Linked DNA regions of Homo sapiens. The protein of the gene in region 2 binds, or shares a complex with, the protein of the main gene of each other region. Each region holds a gene or a part of one and is shown on either strand. Other genes may lie near its edges.

What was found.
Region 1: NUP214 (region 2) and NUP205 share a complex: the UniProt entries of both Homo sapiens proteins name them as parts of the nuclear pore complex.
Region 3: NUP214 (region 2) and NUP107 share a complex: the UniProt entries of both Homo sapiens proteins name them as parts of the nuclear pore complex.
Region 4: NUP214 (region 2) and NUP160 share a complex: the UniProt entries of both Homo sapiens proteins name them as parts of the nuclear pore complex.

Annotation. Positions count from the first base shown.
Region 1 is NC_000007.14:135,644,917-135,649,288, forward strand, and holds the end of NUP205 (nuclear pore complex protein Nup205), read left to right. Parts: coding exon 1-102; intron 103-551; coding exon 552-680; intron 681-1,241; coding exon 1,242-1,315; intron 1,316-3,487; coding exon 3,488-3,640; 3' UTR 3,641-3,837; downstream 3,838-4,372. UniProt on the Homo sapiens protein: Plays a role in the nuclear pore complex (NPC) assembly and/or maintenance. May anchor NUP62 and other nucleoporins, but not NUP153 and TPR, to the NPC.
Region 2 is NC_000009.12:131,121,607-131,128,601, forward strand, and holds the start of NUP214 (nuclear pore complex protein Nup214), read left to right. Parts: upstream 1-3,979; 5' UTR 3,980-4,098; coding exon 4,099-4,143; intron 4,144-5,917; coding exon 5,918-6,113; intron 6,114-6,725; coding exon 6,726-6,877; intron 6,878-6,995. UniProt on the Homo sapiens protein: Part of the nuclear pore complex. Has a critical role in nucleocytoplasmic transport.
Region 3 is NC_000012.12:68,731,958-68,738,992, forward strand, and holds part of NUP107 (nuclear pore complex protein Nup107), read left to right. Parts: intron 1-679; coding exon 680-782; intron 783-1,494; coding exon 1,495-1,655; intron 1,656-2,750; coding exon 2,751-2,876; intron 2,877-3,273; coding exon 3,274-3,387; intron 3,388-7,035. UniProt on the Homo sapiens protein: Plays a role in the nuclear pore complex (NPC) assembly and/or maintenance. Required for the assembly of peripheral proteins into the NPC. May anchor NUP62 to the NPC. Involved in nephrogenesis.
Region 4 is NC_000011.10:47,838,339-47,845,373, forward strand, and holds part of NUP160 (nuclear pore complex protein Nup160), read right to left. Parts: intron 3,350-7,035; exon of another isoform or gene 2,906-3,349; intron 2,251-2,905; coding exon 2,040-2,250; coding exon of another isoform or gene 1,890-2,039; exon of another isoform or gene 1,728-1,889; coding exon 1,505-1,727; exon of another isoform or gene 1,163-1,504; intron 1-1,162. UniProt on the Homo sapiens protein: Functions as a component of the nuclear pore complex (NPC). Involved in poly(A)+ RNA transport.

The DNA.
Region 1 (4,372 bases), on a different chromosome or scaffold from region 2:
CTGGTGTTGATAAAATCTCCACTGCTCAGAAATATGTTCTAGCAAGACGGCGCTTGGTGAAGGTGATCAACAATCGAGCTAAACTGCTTTCCCTTTGTTCTTGTATCCTTTATGAAATCATGCACTTGAATGATGACCTTGAAATATAGGAACTGTTCACTTATTCTCATATTATTTGGGCACCAAAACCAGGTGGAAGGAGATAAACTTAATTTTTTCCCAGTAAATGCCTAATGTATTTCCAAATCATAGTTTTTGTTCTTATCTTTTAGAGTAGCTGGTAATACTGATAAAATACATGGGCACTTTCTGTTAGGGAAGAAGGTAGGGACATGAGACTGCTGGCACAGGACCCCAAGGTCCCCACCTCTTTCCTCAGCACACCTTGCTGCTTCCTCTTGAGGAGCCTTCAGTGAGACCCTGTCTGTTAGACTGAGGCTGTGGGTACCTCATTAAGTGAGTGCAGTCTGTCCTTTTTTCTTCTCCTCCGAAACTGGTGTGTAAAACATATTTGATGAGATTATGTTCCTTTAATCTGAGCTCTGGTATAGTTATCATAGAGACCTGCCTATTTATTCTTTGGCGCCATCTGGAGTACTACTTGTTACATTGCATGCCCACGGATTCTCAAGATTCCTTATTTGCCTCGAGAACCTTGTTTAAAAGCAGAAGACTGCAAGGTAAACTTTCTGCTAAAAATTAATGAACCATAAATACCTATTTGTGCCTTGAAAAGCTAGTACCAGTTTTTTTTTATTTTTGTTTCCAGATTACTTAGAGTGAATTGGGTGAATCAAGAGCTGTTTAGTCACTAGACGTAGCTATTTCTTGCATTTTACTTTCTGTTCACGGGACATTGTGCTGAGCATAAGAATATTCTAGAGCCTGCTCATCAGCTGTTCCTTAGCTTCTTGCTGCAGTTAGGGGGCTGATCCAGCTCTAGAAGAATGGAGGAGGTCTGCTATTATGCTGATTCTTATTGCTGGAGTGGGCCTCTGTGACTGATGGCCATATATTGGATCCCTTAGGTGGAAGGAAATAGAGAAAAGCTGAGAACCCTGGTCTGGACCAGTGAAATGCTTTCTAGGGGCTTCCATTTGCTAAAAGTTGAAAATTGAGTTCCCAATCTTGAGCCGTGTTTTTCATGGTGCTATTGTTATTATTCATTGTCATCAGGTTCCTCCACTGTGTGGTAGATAGGTACTTGCACAGCCGGTATGACTCTGTTTTTTTATCTCTAGATTCCTTCGCCTCAGAAACCAATCTAGATTTTAGAAGTGGGCTGGCTATAGTGAGCCAACATGATTTAGACCAGGTAAGGTTCTATTCTCATATTCTTTTATTTTTCTTCATTAAAGTAAAAGGGCTGGGTGTGATGGTACACATCTGTAATCCCAGCATTTTGGGAGGCCGAGACGGGAGGATTGCTTGAGCCCAGGAGTTTGAGAGCAGTCTGGGCAACATAGTGAGACCCCGTCTCTTAAAAAAAAAAATTGGCATACTGTGGTGGCATGCACCTGTAGTCACAGCTACCTGGGAGGCTGAGGTGGGAGAATCACCTGAGCCTGGGAGACTGAGGCTGCAGTGAGCTGTGATTGCACCACTGCACTCCAGCCTGGGCAACAGAGCAAGACCTTGTCTCCAATAAATGAATGAAAGAGTGAAGCAAGACCTTGTCTCCAATAAATAAATAAATAAATGAATGAATGTAAGTAAGTAAGTAAAAAGGAAAGCCTGGTATGTTAATAAGATTATGATTTTCAGGGTTGCTTACAGACACCTGGTTTGAACTCTAGCTTGACCATTTTAACAGCTATATGACTTTGAACAACTTACTTAACTTCCGAGCCTCAATTGCTTCATCTAAGAAATAGGAGGATTCAACCTCAGAGGGTTTTGTCAGAATTAAGTGAGGTTTCATGTATGTGAGGCTGCTAGTGTTGTACCTAGAACATGGTAAGCATTCCGTGATTGGTAGGCATTATGATCTGGAAACTCCTGATGTCTTTTGATTAGCTTTGTAGAACTTTTTAGGTACAAAGTATCACTCAGCACTTATTTTTCAGGAAATAATTTAATGGTGAGATTGAGAGCAGCCAATACAAATCCCGCCGTCATAGACCATAGTACACAACACTGTGCTCTTACTAACCTGTTGATCAGTAGTGTTAGAATGAATGAAGAGTATGCCAAAAACAATTACAATGAAAACCTCATATTAAACTAATAGCAAAGTTATGTTTCTAACAAAGCAGGTATCAGGGTGTGTGATGTTAGGGAAAATGAATTACAGCTAGATCCTCTGCTAGCCATCTGAATGTCCTTAGCCATGATTTGATAAAGCCTCTGCTCCTCCCAAATCCCTCTTTTTGCTATTTTTCTTAAAACAAGGTTGGGAATGAAAGGTGCAGTTACAGCAGCCTCCAAAGCACAGCTTGCTGGATATCATGAATACCACGCTCCCATCCCAATCCAGACTACATTCGCCCCTTAGTGACTTTATAAAAGGAATTCGTTTTGTGGCTAGGCTTGTTTAGGAGAACTAGTGTTAATTGAGGCCATGTGCAAAATTAGCCAAAGAAGATTATTCAGAAGTTTGTTTGTTTGTTTGTTTTGTCTGAGAGACAAGGTCTCACTCCATTACCCAGGCTGGCATGCAGTGGTGTGACCACAGTTCACTGCAGCCTCAACCCCCTGGGCTCAAGTGATTCTCCCGCCTCAGCATCCTGAGTAGCTAGGACAACAAAAATAAATATATTTTGAAGTAATAACTGTTACTATTTCATTTAGACTGCTTTGTGAAAAAGCTAGAAAAAAATGCAGGATTAATAAATAATCTCACACTCTGTGTTGTGATTTTAATGCAAAACTGAAAACAGGTAGATTGATCTAATATTGTACTTAATTTTAGTCTTTTAGTATAACATCAAAAAGATCCATCTGAAACTACATATGCATTCTAGAATATATATGAATTCTAAAGCATATAACAGGTGTATCCCCACATTAATATTTTTTGAAAACAAAAGCATGCAAGTGGGTTTTTAAAAATTGCAAAATGAAGTAAAAAGTAAAAGCTTCTTTCCCACCTACCCTCCTGTCCTCCCTCCCTCCCTTCCTTCCCTGCATTCTCCTTCCCTCCCTCCCCCGCCAGTCTTACTGACTTCTTGTATGGCCCTTCAGGAAATGTTTTTGTGTGTATGTTAGTATATCAGCATCAGCATCAACATTCATTGCTATTTAAAGCAGGTTTTTAAATTTATACAAGAAAAGAAAGCAGGAAAAACATGAGAATTAAACCAAAAAATTCTAAGGTAGAAAATGTGAATGTTTAGTTAATTTAGTAACACATTACAAAAATTCAAAAGTATTTACATTGAAAGAACCACATTACAAAAATTCTAAAGTGTTTTAAATTGGAAGACTTAGAATAAAAGAAATATTTGAGACAACAATTTTAACAAAATGTCTTTTGTGTCACCGCTAGCTTCAGGCTGATGCAATCAACGCTTTTGGAGAATCACTACAAAAGAAACTTCTGGACATTGAAGGATTATATTCAAAAGTTCGATCTCGATATAGTTTCATACAGGCTCTTGTCAGACGTATCCGTGGCCTCTTGAGGATATCAAGGAACTGAGAGCCCGTGCTTATGCTCTTCTATGAGAGAGATGAATTGGGGAGAATTGTCTCCATTTTATAGATTAGTTTCTTTCTAAATTATGACCAAAAATATTTTGCTATTTCTTTCTTTGTATATGGACATCTTTTCTGTAAACTTCTTCCCCTAGTTCCATCCTCACTAGTAAAAAATAAATACTTTTTAAAAAAACAAAACAAATGTATGGTTAATCTTTTGATCTTTTATCTTTTGATCAGCATTATCAGGAATCTAACAAATAAACCTTCAACAGTGGTGATTTTCCCATAGAGATATTATTCTGAATGCCAGATTAAAGGCATAGTCTGAAAATTCTAATTTTTTCACCCTTTGTAGCTACATTACACTATTAACAATATTCAGGGTTACTAAAATATAGCCATGCTCTTATAGAATAGTGTACTCAATACTGTGAAAATGTCTGAAAAAGTCAAGCTTTTTCCTAAAATTATTTAGGTTTTCCTTTTTTTTGTTTTTTTCTTTTCTGCACGTAAGTTGACAATACAATTGTCCCTTGGTATCTGGTGATTACTGGTTCTAGGGCTCCCACGGATACCAAAACCTATGTTTTGGCATGCATGTTCCTTATATAAAATGGCATTGTGTTTGCATATAATATAGATACATCTTCTTGTATACTTTAAATCATTTCTAGATTACTTACAATACCTAATATAATATGAATTCTATATAAATAGTGGTTAATACTAC
Region 2 (6,995 bases):
CAGATGTTCAGGGACCCTGCCTACACCTCATTTCCAGTGTGGGCTGCCTTAGTTAGTTATGAGAACAGGGAAGGGCTGGGAAGAGACAGCCTCCAAGGTCAACACTTGGAGAGGGTTTCACTTGCTCTGAAGACCCTGGTCCAGGATTCGCCCTCTCCCATGCCTTCAAGTCAGCATCAGGCTTAGGGCAAAGACCAGGCCTCTGAAGCTGCCTCTTGTAATTCATGCAGGAAGATGTCAAAGTCAGCCCCATCTTGGCTGATCAGGGTGTTCAGCCTTAACCCCACCTGTGTTCTGAAGTCTCTTACCCTACCTGCTCAGGACTGAGACAGTTATTCACTGAACATATTTATTAAGCACTTGCTGTAGGCCAACAGTTAAGAATCCAATAATGAAATGGACAGATTCATGGAACTTAGAGTCCAATAGGAAAGTGAGACCCAGACAATGACAATGAGATAAATGTTAGGAAGGGGGAGGTATGGGGTGACTTCCCTGCAGTCCTGGGGGCCTAGATGGGCCCAAGACTGGGTGAGAGTCTTGGCAGAGCCTTTGCAACACCTTAAGTGGACAGGACTGGGAGGTCTTGGTGGTTGGAGCCAACGTGGGTTCCCTGCGGCTCCTTAGTCACCTCTGATAGCAGATTGAGGGAGGAAAACAGGTAAGGCATGAGGAAATGGCCAGGTTGGGTTAACCCACTGGTTTCAACCAGTTCAGGAATGAGGTTATTTGGCCATGACTGGCTGATCTTGAGCTCAAGGATCTGCTTCAAATGCACACAGGCCTAGTTGAAGTTTAAACCCCAGCAAAACATTCCTCCCTGTAAATGGAAAATCCTACTTCTACCCCCACCCTGCCCTGTTTTTTGTTTTTTTTTTCCCCAAGATCATTAGATGTCCTCACCCCTCCTCACTGCCTCTCCTCTCTGGGACAGGCTGGGACCTTTGAGGAAGATAAAGCCTTCCTTCACTACCCATCATATTCAGTGTCCCTGTTCCTCACTCAGAGAGGAAGGCAGAACCAGTCAGGCTTATTTCAGTAAGTTCCACAGTTCTACAAGACTGCAGGAATTCTCCTTAAGGGAGGAGAGCAAGCAGGTGTGGCCCCAGCTTCTGGAAATGGCAGAAGAGAGGGTTTTCTCATTGAATGGGGGTGGGGGCTCGTGTGTCCTGGGAAACCCCATCAGTCCCTTCATTTCTTGAGACTCAACTCCTGGGAGGAGAGGGTCTCAAGAGTTGTCCCTGGAAGGAGGGCGGGGGCAGTCTGCATCTATTTCAGGTTGTGGCTCTTGGTTCTAGGACTCTTACTTCTCTGGCTAAGGGCTCAGCTTCTTGGGACTTCAACCATCTTCTTTCTGAAAGACCAAATCTAATGTAACCAGTAACGTGAGGACTGCCAAGTATGGCTTTGTCCCTATGACTCAGAGGAGGGTTTGTCGGGCAAATTCAGGTGGATGAAGTATGTGTGTGCGTGTGCATGGGAGTGTGCGTGGACTGGGATATCATCTCTACAGCCTGCAAATAAACCAGACAAACTTACCAACGTCTTGATTGGTGTATTTTGGGGCTGGTTCTGGGCTCAGCAAATTGCGAACTAGCTAATATAGTAAGAGATTAAATGAGCATGTCCTGTGCCTTTTGTCTGAGACAGCTGAAATTCACTTATCCTAACCACCTCCCTGCAAGAGACAGGTTCTATTATGTCATCCTTGTTTCACAACTGAAAAGTAGGCTTGAATAAGCAATGTGCTGCAAGCCAAACAGTAAATGGCACAATCCGACCCCCCTGGAGCCAACCCATGAGGTCCAAGTTAAGAACCTCTGTCGGCCGGGCGCGGTGGCTCACGCCTGTAATCCCAGCACTTTGGGAGGCTGAGGTGGGCGGATCACGAGGTCAGGAGATGGAGACCATCCTGGCTAACACGGTGAAACCCCGTCTCTACTAAAAATACAAAAAATTAGCCGGGCGTGGTGGCGGCCGCCTGTAGTCCCAGCTACTTGGGAAGCTGAGGCAGGAGAATGCTGTGAACCCGGGAGGCAGAGCTTGCAGTGAGCCGAGATCGCGCCACTGCACTCCAGCATGAGTGACAGAGTGAGACTCCGTCTCAAAAAAAAAAAAGAACCTCTGTCCTAGAGCATTTATAATTCACTACAGAAATGTATTCTATGAAGGACTTTAATACCATCAGTCAGCCTTATCCAGACGATCTCAATTCTAATCCTGTCACCACCACTTTCTGACTGAGGGCTATTGGAGAATTTTCTCAACTTCTCTGTGCCTCCCTTACCTCATCAATTATTATTATGTATGTGTATGTGTGTGTGTGTATATATATATATATGTGTGTGTGTGTATATATATATGTGTGTGTGTGTGTGTATATATATATATATATATATATTTTTTTTTTTTTTTTTTTTTTTTTCTGAGACAGAGTCTCACTCTGTCACCCAGGCTGGAGTGCAGTGGCACAATCTTAGCTCACTGCAACCTCCACCTTTTGTGTTCATGCGATTCTCCTGCCTCAGCCTCCTGTATAGCTGGGAACACAGGCGTCCGCCACCACACCCGGCTAATTGTTGTATTTTTAGCAGAGACGGGGTTTCACCATGTTGGCCAGGCTGGTCTCGAGCTCCTGACCTCAGGTGTTCCACCCACCTCGGCCTCCCAAAGTACTGTGGTTACAGGCGTGAGCCACTGCTCCCAGCCTATTTTTATTTACTTTTTTTTTTTTTTTTTTTTTGAGACGGAGTCTCGCTCTTTCGCCCAGGCCAGACTGCAGTGGCGCTGTCTCTGCTCACTGCAACCTCCGCCTCCCGGGTTCACGCCATTCTCCTGCCTCAGCCTCCCGAGTAGCTGGGACTACAGGTGCCCGCCACCGCGCCCGGCTAATTTTTTGTATTTTTAGTAGAGTCGGGGTTTCACCGTGTTAGCCAGGATGGTCTCCATCTCCTGACCTCGTGATCCGCCCGCCTCGGCCTCGCAAAGTGCTGGGATTACAGGCGTGAGCCACCGCGCCCGGCCTTTTATTTACTTTTTGAGACAGGGCCTGGCTCTGTCACCCAGGCTGGAGTGCAATGGTGCAATCACAGCTCCCTGTAGCCTCAACCTCCTGGGCTCAGGCAATTCTCCCACCTCAGCCTCCCGAGTAGCTGAGACTACATACGCATGCCATCACTGCTGGCTAATTTTTGTGGTTTTGTTTTGTTTTTTATAGAGACGGGGTCTCGCCATGTTGCCGAGGCTGGTCTCAAACTCCTGGTCTCAAGCAATCCTCCTGTCTCCGCCTCCCAAGTGCTGGGATTATAGGCATGAGCCACCCGCGTCTCATCAATTAAATAAATAACCCCTAGGACGACTAAGATGTCTTCAAGATTACATGAGATCCCACATCTGAAGGTTTTTGCAAAGGACTTGGCACAAACTCGTGCGACTAGACATGGATATGGCTCTTGCTCTGGAAAGGATCACCTTGATAGGAGCAAACAAAGCTGGTCTTCGGTGCCCTTTAATCTCCCCTCCCAGCCTTCCACCTTCCACACTTTAAGAGTCGTCCCTGCCGACCCCCCGACCCCGTTTTTCTGAACCTCCCTTCCTCCCCTTGCATAGTCCAAAGCCTCTCTCTAAAGCAGCCCCCCGAAAACATCTGTCAAGTTCCAAACTTATCTGAATCGGAAGCTACCAATAGCCAACCTACATCTAAGGGGAACTGTAAGATTTCAGAAGAACAAGAAGCATAGGTCGCTTAGGCGTGGGCCACCCAAGAAGAGAGACTTAACACTAGGTAAGCCCGCGCTGGCTGCGAAGGCGGGAGCGGCACCAGGACCATCCAGGGCGCAGGCGCAGGGACCTCACGGCCACGCCACTACTCAGCCCGAGCTGGCCAATGGGGAGCGGCGGCCGGAAGAACGCGCGGCTTCGCTAGGTTCCGCGGCTTCCTCTGACCAAGCTTGACGTCACCAAAGCGCGCCGGAAATGCGAGGTCAACTGCGCGCCGCTGGCGCTGAGGGGAGGAAGTTTGCTGTCGAGCGGCCTGGGTTCCGTGGGCAAGGCCGTGGGAGGCAGCGTTGGCTGCTTCGACACACTGAGGGCGGCGCGATGGGAGACGAGATGGATGCCATGATTCCCGAGCGGGAGATGAAGGTCAGAGACTAACCGGGGCCTCCCTCCCTTCTTTAGTCCTGGCGTTGCCTTGGAGCCCAGCTGAAAGGCGAAGCGCGGTGCTGGCTGTCCCGCCTCCTGCTTGAACAGTTTACCGCGTTCACAGCTCTCACCAGCGCGTCTGCCGCGCCGCTGGCGTGATAGCCCCACCGAATGCAGTTTCCCAGTCCCATCCTGGTCTCGTGCACGGCTGTTGAGTTACCCTAGCTACTTCCTGGGGCGGTCACAATAGTGGCAATAACTGCTGTTTATTGAGTGTTGACTGTGTGCCAGGCACTGTGGTAGTCATCGCGGCAGCCCTACGAAGTAGTCGTTAACGTAGAGGAGTAAGTTGAGGCTCGGAAAGTAATTTCCCTAAAGTCACATTTGACGCGGGGCTGAAAGCCAGCATCATTTAAGACCTTTGCTCTCCCAGTACTTCTGTAAGGTGATACGGGCTTGCCTAACGTAGAGTCAGGGAAGGTCATCCATCCTGCAGAACCTTTAGTTGATTGGACTAGGAAGACTATTTTGACCTCGGTATATCAGCCTAAAGTCAGGAACCTAAAGGGAGGGCCAAGTGGTCCCAGTGATAGCAACGTGGGAGTCCCCCAGGGATAACTTCAGGATGGTGTGTTTAATAGTTCTTATATGGGTTCTGACAGAATGAGGGTACAACAGACGGGCTACATCTGTTTTAAATAGTGAAAAGAAGTAAGTTGCAGGAAGATTTTAGGCATCTGTGTGAACAATAAATCACTAAAATGCATTTAGGGCATAGTAATACCATGTTTAGAATAGTGATTTTTTTTTTTTTTTGAGACAGAGTCTTGCTCTGTCACCCAAGCTGGAGTGCAGTGGCATGATCTCGGCTCCCTGCAACCTCCACCTCCCCGGCTCAAGCGATTCTCCTGCTTCAACCTCCCTAGTAGCTGGTATTACAGGCGCCTGCCACCACGCCCCACTAATTTTTTATATCATTTGGTAGAGACTGGGTTTCACGATGTTGGCCAGGCTGGTCTCGAACTCCTGACCTAACGTGATCCGCCCTCCTCTGGCTCCCAAAGTGCTGGGATTATAGGCGTGAGCTACCGTGCTGTCCTAGAATAGTGATTATTTTTTGAGAATCACCACCTGTGGTGAGCCACCTAATGGGGTTGTGTCATATTCCTCAGATATGCTGGGGTAGAAGAAAAAAAGGTTTTATTAATAGAACCACAGACTTAGAAGATGGTAATCTCGCACTCCCTTTGGCAGCACATATAAAATTGGGATCATGCAGAGAAGACTATTATGGCCCCTTTACATGGATGACAGACAAATTCATGAAGTGTTCCATATCAGAAAAAAATGAGGGCCGAGTGTGGTGGCTCATGCCTGTGAGCTTGCACTTTGGGAGGCTGAGGTGGATGGATCACTTGAGGTCCGGAGTTCGAGACTAGCCTGGCCAACATAATGAAACCCTGTGTCTACTAAAAATACAAAAATTAGATGGCCATGGTGGCGGGTGCCTGTAATCCCAGCTACTTGGGAGTCTGAAGCAGGAGAATCGCTTGAACCTGGGAGGCAGAGGTTGCAGTGAGCCAAGATCGCTGCACTGCACTCCAGCCTGGACGACAGAGCGAGACTCCATCTCAAAAAAGAAAAAAAGACAATTGAGACAGACCTTGGTCTCAGTAATACATATTTTTGTTGTACTGAAATTGGGTCTACTGAATATAACATGTTTTAATTTCTTTCTTTATTGAATTGATCTCGTTTTGATTCTTCACAACAGGATTTTCAGTTTAGAGCGCTAAAGAAGGTGAGAATCTTTGACTCCCCTGAGGAATTGCCCAAGGAACGCTCGAGTCTGCTTGCTGTGTCCAACAAATATGGTCTGGTCTTCGCTGGTGGAGCCAGTGGCTTGCAGATTTTTCCTACTAAAAATCTTCTTATTCAAAATAAACCCGGAGATGATCCCAACAAAATAGGTAAGTTCCCTGGTTTATGTTGCAAAGTAGAGAGAGGAGTATGGTGGCATGCTCTTGTGTTTCCTTCCCAAGAAGTCATTCTAATACTAAAATGAACACTGCTGTCAGTTTGAAGGTTGACTCCCAAGAAGATTAATGGAAGCCTTTCTAGGTTTTCTCCTTGGTCCTTTGTATTTCTCCTTACATGAGTTGTTCCTCTCAGCTCAACAGGGAAGAACTTAACCATTATGCCATGCTTTTATTTTTGCTCAGTTGAACTTGGGCTCTGGCTCTCTGGGTGAAGGGTTTTATTGGCATGGGTTTTCAGTTGGCACAACAGTATGATCCAAACTATTGGCAAGGTGTACTATTTAGAGCATTGTTGCAAAAATATTTTCAACAAGGGCAGCAGCCACAGTTAGTTTCCCCAGATTGTATGAGGAAGAATTCCAGGGATACTTAATCCATCATTATATATCTTTAAGAAAGTTAAGATTTATCTGTATAACTAGGTATTGGGGTGTATGTGTGTTTATGTAGATGCAAAAATTTTTTCACATCGAACTGGATAGAGGTTGTGGCTTTATGCTTAGAACATACCGTTTTCTGCTTTGTATTTTTTTGTTTTCATAGTTGATAAAGTCCAAGGCTTGCTAGTTCCTATGAAATTCCCAATCCATCACCTGGCCTTGAGCTGTGATAACCTCACACTCTCTGCGTGCATGATGTCCAGTGAATATGGTTCCATTATTGCTTTTTTTGATGTTCGCACATTCTCAAATGAGGTAAGCTACTGTTATACTGTGATGTCAACATGAGAACCCTAAGCAGATTTCCTTGTATTGAATTACAACTTGGAAGCTTCATAGGTTAACCCTTGAAGTTTCTCTCTAGATTAAAATA
Region 3 (7,035 bases), on a different chromosome or scaffold from region 2:
TTATTTTAAATACTTGATTAATCACTAACTTATGTAGCTTGCTTACTCATATTTTCAGAAAGGAATAGAAAGTTATATCTAAGAAAACTATTTTAGAGTAACATTTAAAGGAATCACGTGGTTAAGTTGGTAAGGCATACAATATATAATTCCAGATTAATATTTTCTATAATTTATTTTTATTTTTATTTTCTTGAGACAACAAGGTCTAGCTCTGTTACCAAGGCTGGAGTGCAGTGGCGCTATCTCTGCTTACTGCAACCTTCGCCTTCTAGGCTCAAGCCACCCTCCCTCAGTCTCCCGAGTAGCTGGGATTACAGGCATGTGCCACCATGCCTGGCTAATTTTTTGTATTCTTTGTAGAGAAGGGGTTTTGCCATGTTGTCCAGGCTGGTCTCGAACTCATGAGCTCAAGAGATCCGCTCGCCTGGGCTTCCCAAAGTGCTGGGATTACGGGTGTGAGCCAGCATGCCCAGCAGTATTTTCTATAATTTAATAGAGAGCTGTTAAATATGAAAATACACTAAGGAAAGTTAGATGCTTTCATAATTTTGTATAACTTGAGAGAAAATGATGTTTACTGGAAGTACAGGTGTAAGTTAATTCTACTAATTTGTAGAATATCTTTAAAAAAAAAACTCTGATATTCCTTTTTCTTTTTTTCCCCTTTAATAAATAGGAGGATCGTTTAAAAATTGATGTAATTGACTGGTTGGTATTTGACCCAGCGCAGAGGGCAGAAGCACTGAAACAAGGCAATGCAATTATGAGAAAATTCTTGGGTATAGTATATTTTTATGCAGCTTCAAACTCCTGGGCTCCATTCTTCTTCCTACCTCAGCCTCCCAAGTAGCTGGGACTACAGGCACCCACCACCACACCCACCTAATTTTTAAAAAATTTTTTCTAGAGATGGGGTCTCACTATGTTGCCTAGGCGGGTCTCGAACTCCTGGCCTGAAGCAATCCTCCCACCTCAGCCTCCTGAAGTGCTGGGATTATAGGCGTGAACCACCACACCCAGATTTTTTATTCTTTTTTAAAACGTTTTTGTTCAAATTCGTGTATTTTTGAATTTGGGGTGGGGGGTTGCTTTTTGTTTTTGATCCTTCCATAGGGAGGAGAAAACCAGCCACTCTTTATCTATCAAACCTGGTATTATGAAACAAAATATATTTTAATGGTGAATTTTCATTGTCCTAATCAATTTTGCAAATAATCTCAAGGCTATCCGACTTTGAAAAATGAATTGCTTTAAGACATAAAAGTATGTAAAAGTAACTGCATTTGATGTATCCTTTTGTGATAGTATCACATTGAGATACGAAAAAGCCAGTCTATCAGGTAGAAAGATCACCAAGACCTTTAACAGAGTGCCTTGGGCCCTGAAATAGTTACAGGTCACTGTAAAATTGGTAAACCAGTGATTTGACTCCTTTAGAAACCATTACAGAGAAGTCCGTAGGCATTCAAAATTGTGTATCTTTTTTCACAGCATCAAAAAAGCACGAAGCTGCAAAAGAAGTATTTGTGAAAATTCCTCAGGATTCTATAGCAGAAATCTATAATCAGTGCGAGGAACAAGGAATGGAAAGTCCACTTCCTGCTGAAGATGATAATGCTATCCGAGAACATTTGTGCATCAGAGCTTATTTGGTGAGACTGTAAAGAAAGCCACAGATGTGCCTACTTCATGATGATTTTTCGGATTCACTCTCAGAGTTTGAACTTTTTTCTAGAAGTAGTGTTGGTTCATCTTACCTCTCTTGTGACTATAGTGCTGACTCATCCACAAGGGGACTGACTTCATGACCTTATCTTCATTAGCATGATTCTCTAATCAATGCTAACCAACCAAGATCATCTCACATGGTAGATAGTGTCTATGATGTCTGGAAGTTATGTTTTCTTAAGATTTTGTGATGCATGTCTCAGCTTTAAATTTCTGCTTTTTTCAATAACTGAGAAAAAGCAAGATGCTCTAGGTTTGTTATGACTAAAATAGCAGCATACTCATTCAAAATTCATTCAAGGCTAGATGCGGTGACTCACGCCTATAATCCCAACACTTCGGGATGCCAAGGCAGAAGCATTGCTTGAGCCTGGGAGTTCAAGACTGGCCTGAGCAACACAGTGAGACCCCTGCATCTCTACAAAAAAATAAAACAAAATTAGCCAGGCATGGTAGCATGTACTTGTAGTCCCAGCTTCTTCAGAGGCTGAGGTGGGAGGATCGCATGAGCCCAGGGAGTTGAGGCTGCAGTGAGCAGAGATCATGCCTTGTCTTTATTAGATCATGTACTCCAGTCTGGGTGACAGAGCAAGGTCCTGTCTCAAAAACAAAAAAAAAATTTTATTCAATAAATAATTATGTAATTACAGTGGGTTAGGTAGTAGGGCCAAATCTGTGGATAGCACCCTATCCTTGCCCTCTAAAAACTAATAGGCTAGTTAAGAAGACAAGTACACATGCATATGTTACAGAGCGATGAATGTCAAGATACATATACGATCAGGGTGCTCAGATTGGAGAATATGCCAGAAAACACAATATATATACCTTGTTTGTCACTTGACAAAACATTTATTCATGATATGAATTTTTGGAGGGAAAAAAATATATATTGAACAGTTTTATTTCTTGATGCTGCAAAATTATTTCTAAGAATCAAATGTTAAAAATGTTGGTGAAACGATAAAAGTGAAAACTTTTGTTATTTTATATTTTGGTTTTTTTATTTCACATTTTAGGAAGCCCATGAAACCTTTAATGAGTGGTTTAAGCATATGAATTCAGTTCCACAAAAACCTGCTTTGATACCTCAACCAACTTTTACTGAGAAAGTGGCTCATGAACACAAAGAAAAGAAATATGAAGTAAGTTAAATATGGATCTAGGATGTGCCTACTGCATCTTATAAATGTGTGTTGTATATTTAAAGAGATCGTTTCTTCAGCAACTATCTTTCGATCATAACAGGTAATCTCCCTGTTAATGTCCTGCTTTGGAAGATGCAATCTGTTTAGTTACTTTTCTGTAGGTAATTAACCAAACATGAAAAATGCCTTCAGGTGACATGAGCGTTCATTTACAAAGTTAACATTTTAGCGTTTTACTTAACTGCAGTCTGTTGATACTTATTTTTGTACTTGGCAGACTGAAACATCAACTCTTTAGAATGATGTTCTATATGTATGTTCCTGTCTGTATTTTCCAAATACATTATTTATTGGGTTTTATCCATTATATGTCTGCCTTGTGTTTGTTTTGCAGATGGATTTTGGTATTTGGAAAGGGCATTTGGATGCCCTAACTGCTGATGTGAAGGAGAAAATGTATAACGTCTTGTTGTTTGTTGATGGAGGGTGGATGGTGGATGTTAGAGAGGTAAGCTGTGTGCATTGTTTATAGCCAAAAACCAAAACACTCACCATGTTCTTTTTTAAAAATATTCTGTCTCTAAATGGGAGCATCTACAGATTTTACATAATTGTAGATATAGCTAAATCCCATGTTTTAAGCTAAACTGAAAATACTACCTAGGGAATGGGAATATTTGATTCTTGGATAAACTATTAGTTCACATTTACTATGTTCACAGAGGATACAAAAATCTAATTTTTAAAAAATTCTGGACCTAAAAATTTAATTATACATGTATGTCACTCCATTTACAGATATAAAGATAACTCGAGTAGTATCAGTAAGGCATAGCTAAGGTAGGGGCTCTCACCTCTGGGCTGTCCATTTTAATGACCTGGCAGACTTTTTAAAAACACTACAGGGTTCCACTCCCAGAGATTATGGTGTAATTGGTCTGAGGTAGGGCTGGGGTTTATTTTTGTTTTTTTAATCACTTGCAGTGCTTTAATATAATATATAGCCTGTGTTGAGAACCAGCTACAGAAGTATCAAGTGCCATAAGAAAGGCACAGGTTAAGTATTTTCTGAGTCCAGGAAAAGAAAAGATTGTTTTCACCTGAAAGGGAACTGGAACGTATGCTTGAAATGTATAGCATTTGACTGAATCTTGAACATACTGGTAGAATTTGGATGAGCTGAGATGGGAGAAAGGAAGGATACTGAGATAATAGTCATATAAGGGAAAGACATTGCAGCCTGACCCTGGTGCATGACAGAAACAGTGAGTAGCTTAGTTTATCCTCTGTAGACCTGAGGAGCTGTCTGAGAGCTGGAAATACTGGCTTCTTGGATATTTGATGTGTTATTTTGAACAAAGAAAACAGTAAGTGTTCTTGGTATCTTTCCTTTTGCCATTCTTCATACCCTCATCTATTTAGTACTTTTTCTTTAATTTTAGCTATTGCATTTTTTTTTTAGCCTGTCTTCTCTGACCAGAAGGAGGAAAAAGAATACAGGCAGGACAGCGAACTAAATTTGAGCCCCTATTTGCCACTATTACTGATGGAGTAATTATCTTAAATGTCTCCACTTTATTTTTTCTTTTTTTGTTTTAGAGACAAGGTCTTGCTCTATCACCCAGGCTGGAGGACAGTGGCTTCATCATAGCTCACTGCAGCCTCAAACTTCTGGGCTCAAGCAGTCCTTCTGCCTCAGCCTCCCCAGTAGCTAGGACAACAAGCACACACCACCATGCCTGGCTTTTTTGTTTGTTTGTTTTTGACACAGGATCTTGCTGTGTTGCCCAAGCTGGTCTTGAACTTCTAGCCTCAAGCTGTCCTCCCACCTTGGCCTCCTGAAGTGCTGCGATTACAGGCATGAGTCAATGTGTCGCCACCTTTTTTTTTTTTTTTTTTTTTTGAGAAAGAGTTTTGCTCTTGTCGCCCAGGCTGGAGTGCAATGGCACAATCTTGGCTCGCCTCCCAGATCCTCTTGCCTCAGCCTCCCAAGTAGCTGGGATTACAGGCATCCACCACCACACCCAGCTAATTTTTGTATTTTTAGTAGAGATGGGATCTCACCATGTTGGCCAGGCTGGTCTCGAACTCCTGACCTCAGGTGACCCACCTGCCTTGGCCTCCCAAAGTGCCTGAGATTACAGGCGTGAGCCACTGCGCCCAGCCAAGTCTCCACTTTTTATCCTAACGTTCGTAATAGAACTCCTTTGACTCGTTTTAAACCTTCCACAGGTTCCTCTGGCAAAACCTTTCTCATCTGATTCATGCTGATTCTCTTGAAGATAAAATTTTAATGTTGTAAAATGCTAATTAAGTGTCACTTAAATTTTGAAAAGACTTCAATGCTTTATTTATACATACATCTTTGCTATTCTAATTATTAATTAAGTAGATTAGGTAGTGAAAGCCACAAAATAGTCTTGGGATCTCATAAAATTAGAGTTGAGGCCAAGCGTGGTGGCTCACGCCTGTACTCCTAGCACTTTGAGAGGCTGAGGTGGGTGGATCACCTGAGGTCAGGAGCTTGAGACCAGCCTGGACAACATGGGGAAACCCCGTTTCTACTAAAAATACAAAAAAATTAGCCTGGTGTGGTGGTGCATGCCTGTAGTCCCAGCTACTAGTGAGGCAGGAGAATGGCCTGAACCCAGGAGGCAGAGGTTGCAGTGAGCCGAGATCGTGCCACTGCACTTCAGCCTAGGTGACAGAGTGAGACCCTGTCTCAAAAAAAAAAAAAAAAAAAAAATGGAGTTGAGATGGAAGGCAATGAATGATACACCATTTTGTTTCATCAGGGATTTTAAAATCAATATTCAGTCTCAATTATTTCTTTAAAACTTCAGTCTCAATTATTTCTTTAAAACTAATCCAGAAAAGAGATTTCTTGAACAGTTAAATGATTAATAACATTTTAATCACCTTTGTTGAGCCTAATACTCTTACATAGTCAATGACGTAGGGCATTGTTCAAGGCCCCTGCTAACACGTGTCACTTGTATGTGAATTAGAAAATTGTAATTCTATCTGGGAACGGTGGCTCATCCCTATAATCCCAGCACTTTTGGGAGGCCGAGGAGGGCAGATCACGTGAGGCCAGGAATTCGAGACCAGCCTGGCCAATATGGTGAAACTCCGTCTCTACTAAAAATACAAAAAATTGGCCGGGCACGGTGGCTCACGCCTGAATCCCAGCACTTTGGGAGGCCAAGGCTGGTGGATCAGAAGATCAGGAGATCAAGATCATCCTGGCCAATATGGTGAAACCCTGTCTCTACTAAAAATACAGAAAACTAGCCAGGCATGGTGGCACGTGCCTGTAGTCCCAGCTACTTGGGAGGCTGAGGCAGAAGAATCACTTGAACCTGGGAGGCGGAGGTTGCAGTGAGCCGAGATTGCGCCACTGCACTCCAGCCTGGCAACAGAGCGAGACTCTGTCTCAAAAATAAAAATAAAAATACAAAAAATTAGCCGGGTGTGGTGGCTCGCGCCTGTAATCCCAGCTACTAGGGAGGTGGAGGCAGGAGAATCGATTGAACCCAGGGAGGCGGAGGTTTCAGTGAGCCAAGATTGCGCCACTGCACTCCAGCCTGGGCAACAAAGGGAGACTCCGTCTCAAAAAAAAAAAAAAAAAATTGGAATTCCCTTCCCTTACATAGATAGGTTCCATGGCAAGTGCACACAATATGTAAGACAGAACACAGGCTAGATTTCAGCCCCACTTACTTGCTTGGCCAGCCACCCTTGTACAAGGCACGGCTGTACACAATAGCCCTAGCATTATGTGCTGTTTTCGTATAGCTACCCCTCAAGTTTTTAAATAACTGGAATAGTCCCCTTAGTGTTGGGGCTGGTGGCACAGAGGAATGGCAGAGAGAATGGAGCAGGCAGGTCATCTTTACCTACCTTTCACTACCTCTACCTCTAGCACATTCTAGTCCAAGCCTCTACTGTCTTCCGTGGCTTCTCACTGTTCTTTATACAATCGTTCCTTATACAGATGGACTAGTGACCCTTTCAGAATAAAATACATGCGACTGTCTTACCCAGAACTTTCTGATGCCTTCTTATTGCACTTGGAATAAAATCTTTCTTTTCTTGATGTACAAGAGTATACATACTTTTGTTTTGTTCTTTTTTTTTTAAACTAACCCCCTAA
Region 4 (7,035 bases), on a different chromosome or scaffold from region 2:
CAGCAGTGGGTCACTCTAGGCCAGTGTAAGGACTCTGGGTTTATTCAGCATAACATGATATATTTGAATCCCACCTTGGGTCATGTTGGCCAGGTGCCGTGGCTCACACCTGTAATCCCAGCACTTTGGGAAGCTGAGGCAGGCGGATCACTTGAGGTCAGGAGTTCGAGACCAGCCTAGTCAATGTGGCAAAACCCCATCTCTACTAAAAATTCAAAAATTAGCCAGGTGTGGTGGTGGACACCTGTAATTCCAGCTACTTGGGAGGCTGAGACATGAGAATCACTTGAACCTGGGGGGGGCGGAGGTTGCAGTGAGCCAAGATGGCACCACTGCATTCCAGCCTGGGTGACAGTGAGACTCTGTCTCAAAAGAAAGAAAGAAAGGCCAGGTGCGGTGGCTCAAGCCTGTAATCCCAACACTTTGGGAGGCTGAGGTGGGCAGATCACAAGGTCAGGAGTTCGAGACCAGCCTGGCTAACATGGTGAAACCCTGTCTCTACTAAAAATACAAAAATTAGCTGGGTATGGTGGCAAATGCCTGTAATCCCAGCTGCTCAGGAGACTGATGCAGGAGAATCGCTTGAACCCAGGAGGTGGAGATTGCAGTGAGCTGAGATCATGCCACTGTACTCCAGCCTGGGCGACAGAGAGAAATCCCATCTCAAAAAAAAAAAAAGAATAAAAGAAAAGTTGTGTCATGTCACTGCACTACATAAAGGACGGCTTTACACAGTGCAGTGACATGACCCAACTTGGGTTTTTCTTTTTGAGATGGAGTTTCGCTCTTGTTGCCCAGGCTGGAGTGCAATGGCACGATCTTGGCTTATCGCAACCTCCACCTCTTGGGTTCAAGCGATTCTCTTGCCTCAGCCTCCCGAGTAGCTGGGATTACAGGCATGGGCCACCATGCCCAGCTAATTTTGTATTTTTAGTAGAGACGGGGTTTCTCCATGTTGGTCAGGTTGATCTCCAACTCCCAACCTCAGGTGACCCACCTGCCTTGGCCTCCCACAGTGCTGGGATTATAGACGTGAGCCACAGCGCCTGGCCCTTGGGTTTTAAATATATCAGTCCACCTGAGAAGTGTCTGAAGAGGGTTAAGACAGATCTGGGGAGATATATAGAAAGCTAATACAATAATCCAGGCAAGACACAGTGGCAACTTGGTGCAGGGTATTTAATGTCTTTGTTTCAATTAATTTAATTATAATGTTATAATGCCTCCATCTCAGGGCAGACAATTAGGCAACCCATCTCTACTACAAGATTTAGAATAGGCTGTCTTATACTTGTCTATTTGTTTTTCCGTGCTCCAATATGCTTTATAGTTCCTTATCCACTGTATAAAAGTAAAGCATTAGGGACTCATTAGGCAAGCAATAATGAATGACCAGTTCCGGGGCAGTAGAGATGCAATCCCTGCATTGGATGACGAGGTTGAACTGTTTCAATGTTAACATTCCTTGTTTAAAGTTAAATCCATGCTCAGTTCCCATTCTTACCAGGTATGTCATAAGGAGGTAGCTTAAGAACAAAGATTCCCCCAGAAGCACATGGTAAGGCAAACAGGGCCTCCCCATCACTGCTGAGCCAGGCTGTAGAGGCGGTGGAATTAGGAGATATTCCAGGTACTGCTGGAATTAACTGATAGTTGCAAGGATCTGTGAAATCAACTTTTCCAATGTCAGTGAATATTGACTGCATCTGACTGTCAACTACCAACTCCTGTTGAGTAATTAAAAAGAAAAATCTATTAAATCAAAATAACCAGAATTTTGCTCAGTTCCTCTCTATTGCTAAAAAAGTTTTTAAAGTAAAAAACTGTCAAGTTTAAGAAAGCTATTCTTCTTAATGAAAACTAATTCTCAACTTAAAATGTATGCCTGATCATTTTAAGCGGTAGCTATCAAAGTATGCTTGGTGAGGGATAACGAGAATCCAAATTTCCTTCAATTCCAAAAGACATCGCTCCAGCACTACATTTGTGACACCCAGAGTAATTTGGGAAATAAAAGATATTGCACTTAGCCAACTTACACTCCTATACATCCGGGAGGGGTGTGGTAAAAGTAACCTGTGCACTGTTTGATTGGTTAACATCAAGATTATCACACGATTCTGAGTCTCAGAGACATAAACCCCTCCAGGTAAAACACTGCAATTTTGGAATTTTAGGCGAATGGCATTATTCAACAGATTTATGTCCAGTGACTCCTCCATCAGCTCCAATGTATCTCCAGAGGTCTTCCTGTTGAAAAAGAGACATTTGTTTGAAAAGTTTATGCTTTTCTCACTGACTGTTCTACTGAAATATATGAGAACAGTGTCCAAGTGAACTCACCAAATTTGAAAATTTTGGATAAACAGATTTGGACCACTTTTGCATGCCAAATCACATTATGTACATTTATAAAAAACAGCATAACAAAATCCAAATTTCACTGTGATTCTGTTACATAGAGACATTTCCAAACTTGATAGGCCATTTATTTAGGACAATATTTTATGCAATTAACTCTACTATAATAAAAATTAACACCATACCCCGGCCATTGCTTGTAGTGGAATGTGGCCTCCATATATACTACAGCATCAAACAAAACTGACCTTAATAATTGCGGTTATTTCCTGTTTCTATTACTTCTTAACCTGCAATAGCATGCATGCGCACACATATACACACACACACACAGAATAGCAATTTTATACATGCGCTTACATGTATGTGCAAAAATATTACAAAAATAAATATTTTAATATAAAAATACCTTCGCAAATTGAACATATCAGGGTTAGTTTCTATACTAAGCTATTCTAACTTTCATTATTACTCCTCAAAAGGAGCTTGTTTATTTATTTTTTTCTTTTTTCCCCCACCCTCCCCAAAAGGAGCTTGTTTATTAATCCCAGCTGAGGAGCAAGGAGCCACTGGCAGCCACAGATCTCACTGCTGCACAGGGTTTTTAGAACTTCAGCCATAAAAATGGGCAGAATTTTCCTTGATCATATTCGTGGTACCTGTCCATTTTCTTATGCAAACTGTGATACAATCCTGACCAACCGCTCAGAATTCATCTCCACTTGGTTCACAGGCGCCACTGGCAGAGCATTTCTTTTTAACAAGGTAGTGAACCTGCAGTACAATGAAGCTCTAGATTGGGTCATGCTCACTGGCCACCACATGGTCCAACATGTGAGCTGAAAAACTGCAGCAGCAAACTGGGATGGATCTACGAGTTTGCCACCGAAGACAGCCAGTGTTACAAGGAAGGCCATGTGATCCTGGAACGTGCTCTAGTTCGAGAGATTGAGGGCTCTAAGGAGCATGTACCATCTGATAATTTTTGTTTGTTTGTTTGTTTTTTTTTTGAGACAGGGTCTCACTCTGTCAGGCTGGGGTGCAGTGGTGCAATCATAGCTCACTACAGCCTCGAACTCCTGGGCTCAGGCAATCCTCCCACCTCAACCTCCTCAGCAGCTGGGACTACAGGTGTGCACCACCACACCTGGCTAATTTTTGTATTTTTTAGTAGAGACGGGGTTTCACCATGTTGGCCAGGCTGATCTTGAACTCCTGGCCTCAAGCCTCCCAAAGTGCTACCTGCCTCGGCCTCCCAAAGTGCTGGGATTACAGGTGTGAGCCACCACACCTGGCCCTCTTACTTGACTCTTAGCAGCATTCCACATGATTACAGGTGTTAGCCACCATGCCTGGCCCTCTTACTTGATCTCTTAGCAGCATTCCACATATGTGACCTTGCCTTCCTTTTTAAACAGTCTCTTCTCATGAATCCTATGATACTACCCTCTCCCAGTTTTCCTCCCACATTCCTGTCCATTTCTTCCCCTTCTCCTTGACCTGACCCCTATATGCTAGATTTCCTCAAACCTTGATCCTGGACCATCTTCTCTCACTGTACACTTTCTCCCAAGGCACATCTTATCTACTCCCAAGGATGTAAGTACCTTTTCAGCGCTGATGATTTCCCAGAGCTACTTTGCTTCTGGTAACTCACGGCATCAGCACAATTTTCTGGATCCTCAACCTCATCTCTGAATAATTCCTTCGCTTTCCTGCCTTACGGTTAAAGTTGGATCCTGGATCTCCCGTGAGGACAGTGACCCCAGAGTTTTCTCTACCATGCCCTTTGGGGTGGGGCCTCAAGGAAAACATACAGATGTCCTTGTTCCCCACTGGCATTCTAGGCCACTGTTCCTCCTCTGCTACCCGAATCACTCAGCTCTGAAGCTCATGGAATCAGATACCACCTGCTACCCATGCTCACTGCAGTTGATTTTAGCTCCTGGCCCACTGTCACTCTCTCCCACACTACTCTCACCATAATTCTTAATGATTTCAGTATCAGGGCCAGGTACAATAGCTCATGCCTATGATCCCAGCATTTTGGGAGGCCAAGACAGGAGGATTTCTTCAGCCCAGGAGTACGAGATCAGCCTGGGCAACACAGCAAAACCCTATCTCTACAAAATAAAAAAATTAGCCAGGCATGGTGATGCCCGCCTGTAATCTCAGCCACTTGGGAGGCTGAGATGGGAGGATCGATTGAGCCTAGGAGTTCGGGCTGCAGTAGGCCATGACTGTGCTATTTTACTCCAGCCTGGGTGACAGAGTGAAACTCTGACTCTAAAAAAAAACAAACAAACAAATGAATAAACAATATCCAATTATCCTAACACTCTACCTTCTCAGTTCCCCAAATTCCTTTCCTCTAGTGATTGCTCTCAACTGCATCTACTAGGTCATTCCCAACTGCACATAGATATATTATTATATTTTCTCTGTTCCTCCCTTGCTCTCTGGTTACCATGTGATTTCTCTGCTTCCCTTATAGCAATACACCTTGGAAGGGCTATTCTATACTCACAATTCCTCTCCTCCCTTTCCCTCTTGAACCCACTCCACTGAGGCTTTTGTACGACTACTGCAGCAATTCCTGACCAGGTCATCAATGACCTCCATGATCCAAAGGCCAATTTTCGTTTCTCATCTTGCCTGGCTTAAATGCAACACTGACAGGTTTTCACTCTCCTCCTCCTTGAAACATTTCCCTTAGCTTCTGGGATGCCACGTTCTTTGTTCAACTCTCACTTCAGTTACTCCTTCTTGGGCTCCTTTGTTGGTTCGTCATTTTTCTAAATGTTGGTGTGCCCCAGGGTTCAGTCCCAGACTGCTCTACTCAAGTGGCTCTCAACTGGGGGCGATTCTTCCTCATTCACCAGGATATTAAGCAATATCTAGAGATATTGTTGGTTATTGTAACTAGGGTAGAAGTGGCGGTATAGATGTGCTATTGCTATGCAGAGGGTAGAAGCCAGGAATGCTGCTTAACACCCTATAGCATACAGGACAGCCTTCCACAATGAAGACTTAGCTGACAATAATAGTGCAGAAGGTGAAAAATCCTAATTTATTCTCACTTTCTAGGTGATCTCATTCAGTAGAACAGCTTTAAGCACGATCTAATGCCAACAATTTCACAATCTGTATCTTTAGCCCAACTTCTCCACTCAACTCCTGACTACTGTCTCAACACTCACTTGGATATCTATCAGGCATCTCAGATTACACCTGTCCAAAACAGAACTCCTGGACTCACTGAACCTGAAGAAAACAAAAGTACCTGCTTCACCTATACGTTTTTCCATCGCAATTAATGACATCTCCCTAACTTCCAATTGCTCAAGCCAAAAATCTAGGGCTCACCTGTGACTCTTTTCTTTCTGTATACTCCCCATCCAATGCAACAGTAATTCTAACAAATTCACCTTGAAAACATATCCACAATCACAACATTTCTCACTGCCTCTGTCACTACCACCCTGATCTAAGCCACCATCATGTGTGAATTGTGGCACCAGCCTCCTAACTGGTCTCCCTGCACCTACCCTTTCCCCCACCACGCTCTATTCTCAAGACAGCAGTCAAAGCAATCCTTTAGAAGCCCAGATCTTAGATCACGTCATTCCTCCACTTTAACCTTCCACAGCTTCTTCTCATCTTACTCAGAGCAAAAGCCAAAGCTTAAAATAACCAACAAAGCCCTGATCTGGCCCTCAACTATCTCTTTCTTATTATTCTACCCTTTGTTCACTCAGCTGCAGACTCCTGGCTCCTTTCCACTCTTTGAACACAACAGGCTCCTGTTTCAGGGTTCTTTGCACTTTTTATTCCTTTTTCTTGGAAGGCTCCACCTGAAATACTCATTCCCCAGATATCCTTTCTTCTGCTCAAATGTCAGCTTACCCCTGGCTCTTGCCCAACCACCCTACATAAAACATTAACTCCCACAGGTATTCCTCTTCCCTCTTATGCTGTTCCCTTTTTCCTATTCCATTAATCAACTGACAAACTGTCAGAGGCATGTGAACCAGAACAACTCCATCTTGAATAGGAGTTGGGTAAAACAAGACTGAAACCTACTGGGATGCATTCCCAGACAGTTAAGGCATTCTAAGTCACAGGATGAGATAGGAGGTCAGCACAAAATACAGGTCATAAAGACCTTGCTGATAAAACAGGTTGCAATAAAGGAGCAAGCCAAAACCCACCAAAACCAAAATGGCGACAAGGGTGACCTCCAGTTGTCCTCACTGCTACACTCCCATCAACGCCATGACAGTTTACAAATGCCATGGCAACATCAGGAAGTTACATCAGGAGTCTAAAAAGTGGGGGCATGAATAATCCACCCCTGTTTAGCATATCATCAAGAAATAACCATAAAAATGGGCAACCAGCAGCCCTCGGAGCTACTCTGTCTATGGAGTAGCCATTCTTTTATTTACATTTTTTTTTGAGATGCAGTTTTGCTCTTGTTGCCCAGGCTGGAGTGCAATGGTGTGATCTCAGCTCACTGCACCCTCCACCTCCTGGGTTCAAGCTATTCTCCTGCCTCAGCCTCCCAAGTAGCTGGGATTATAGGCATGTGCCATCATGCCCAGCTAATTTTGTATTTTTAGTAGAGACACGGTTTCACCATGTTGGTCAGGCTGGTCTCGAACTCCTGACCTC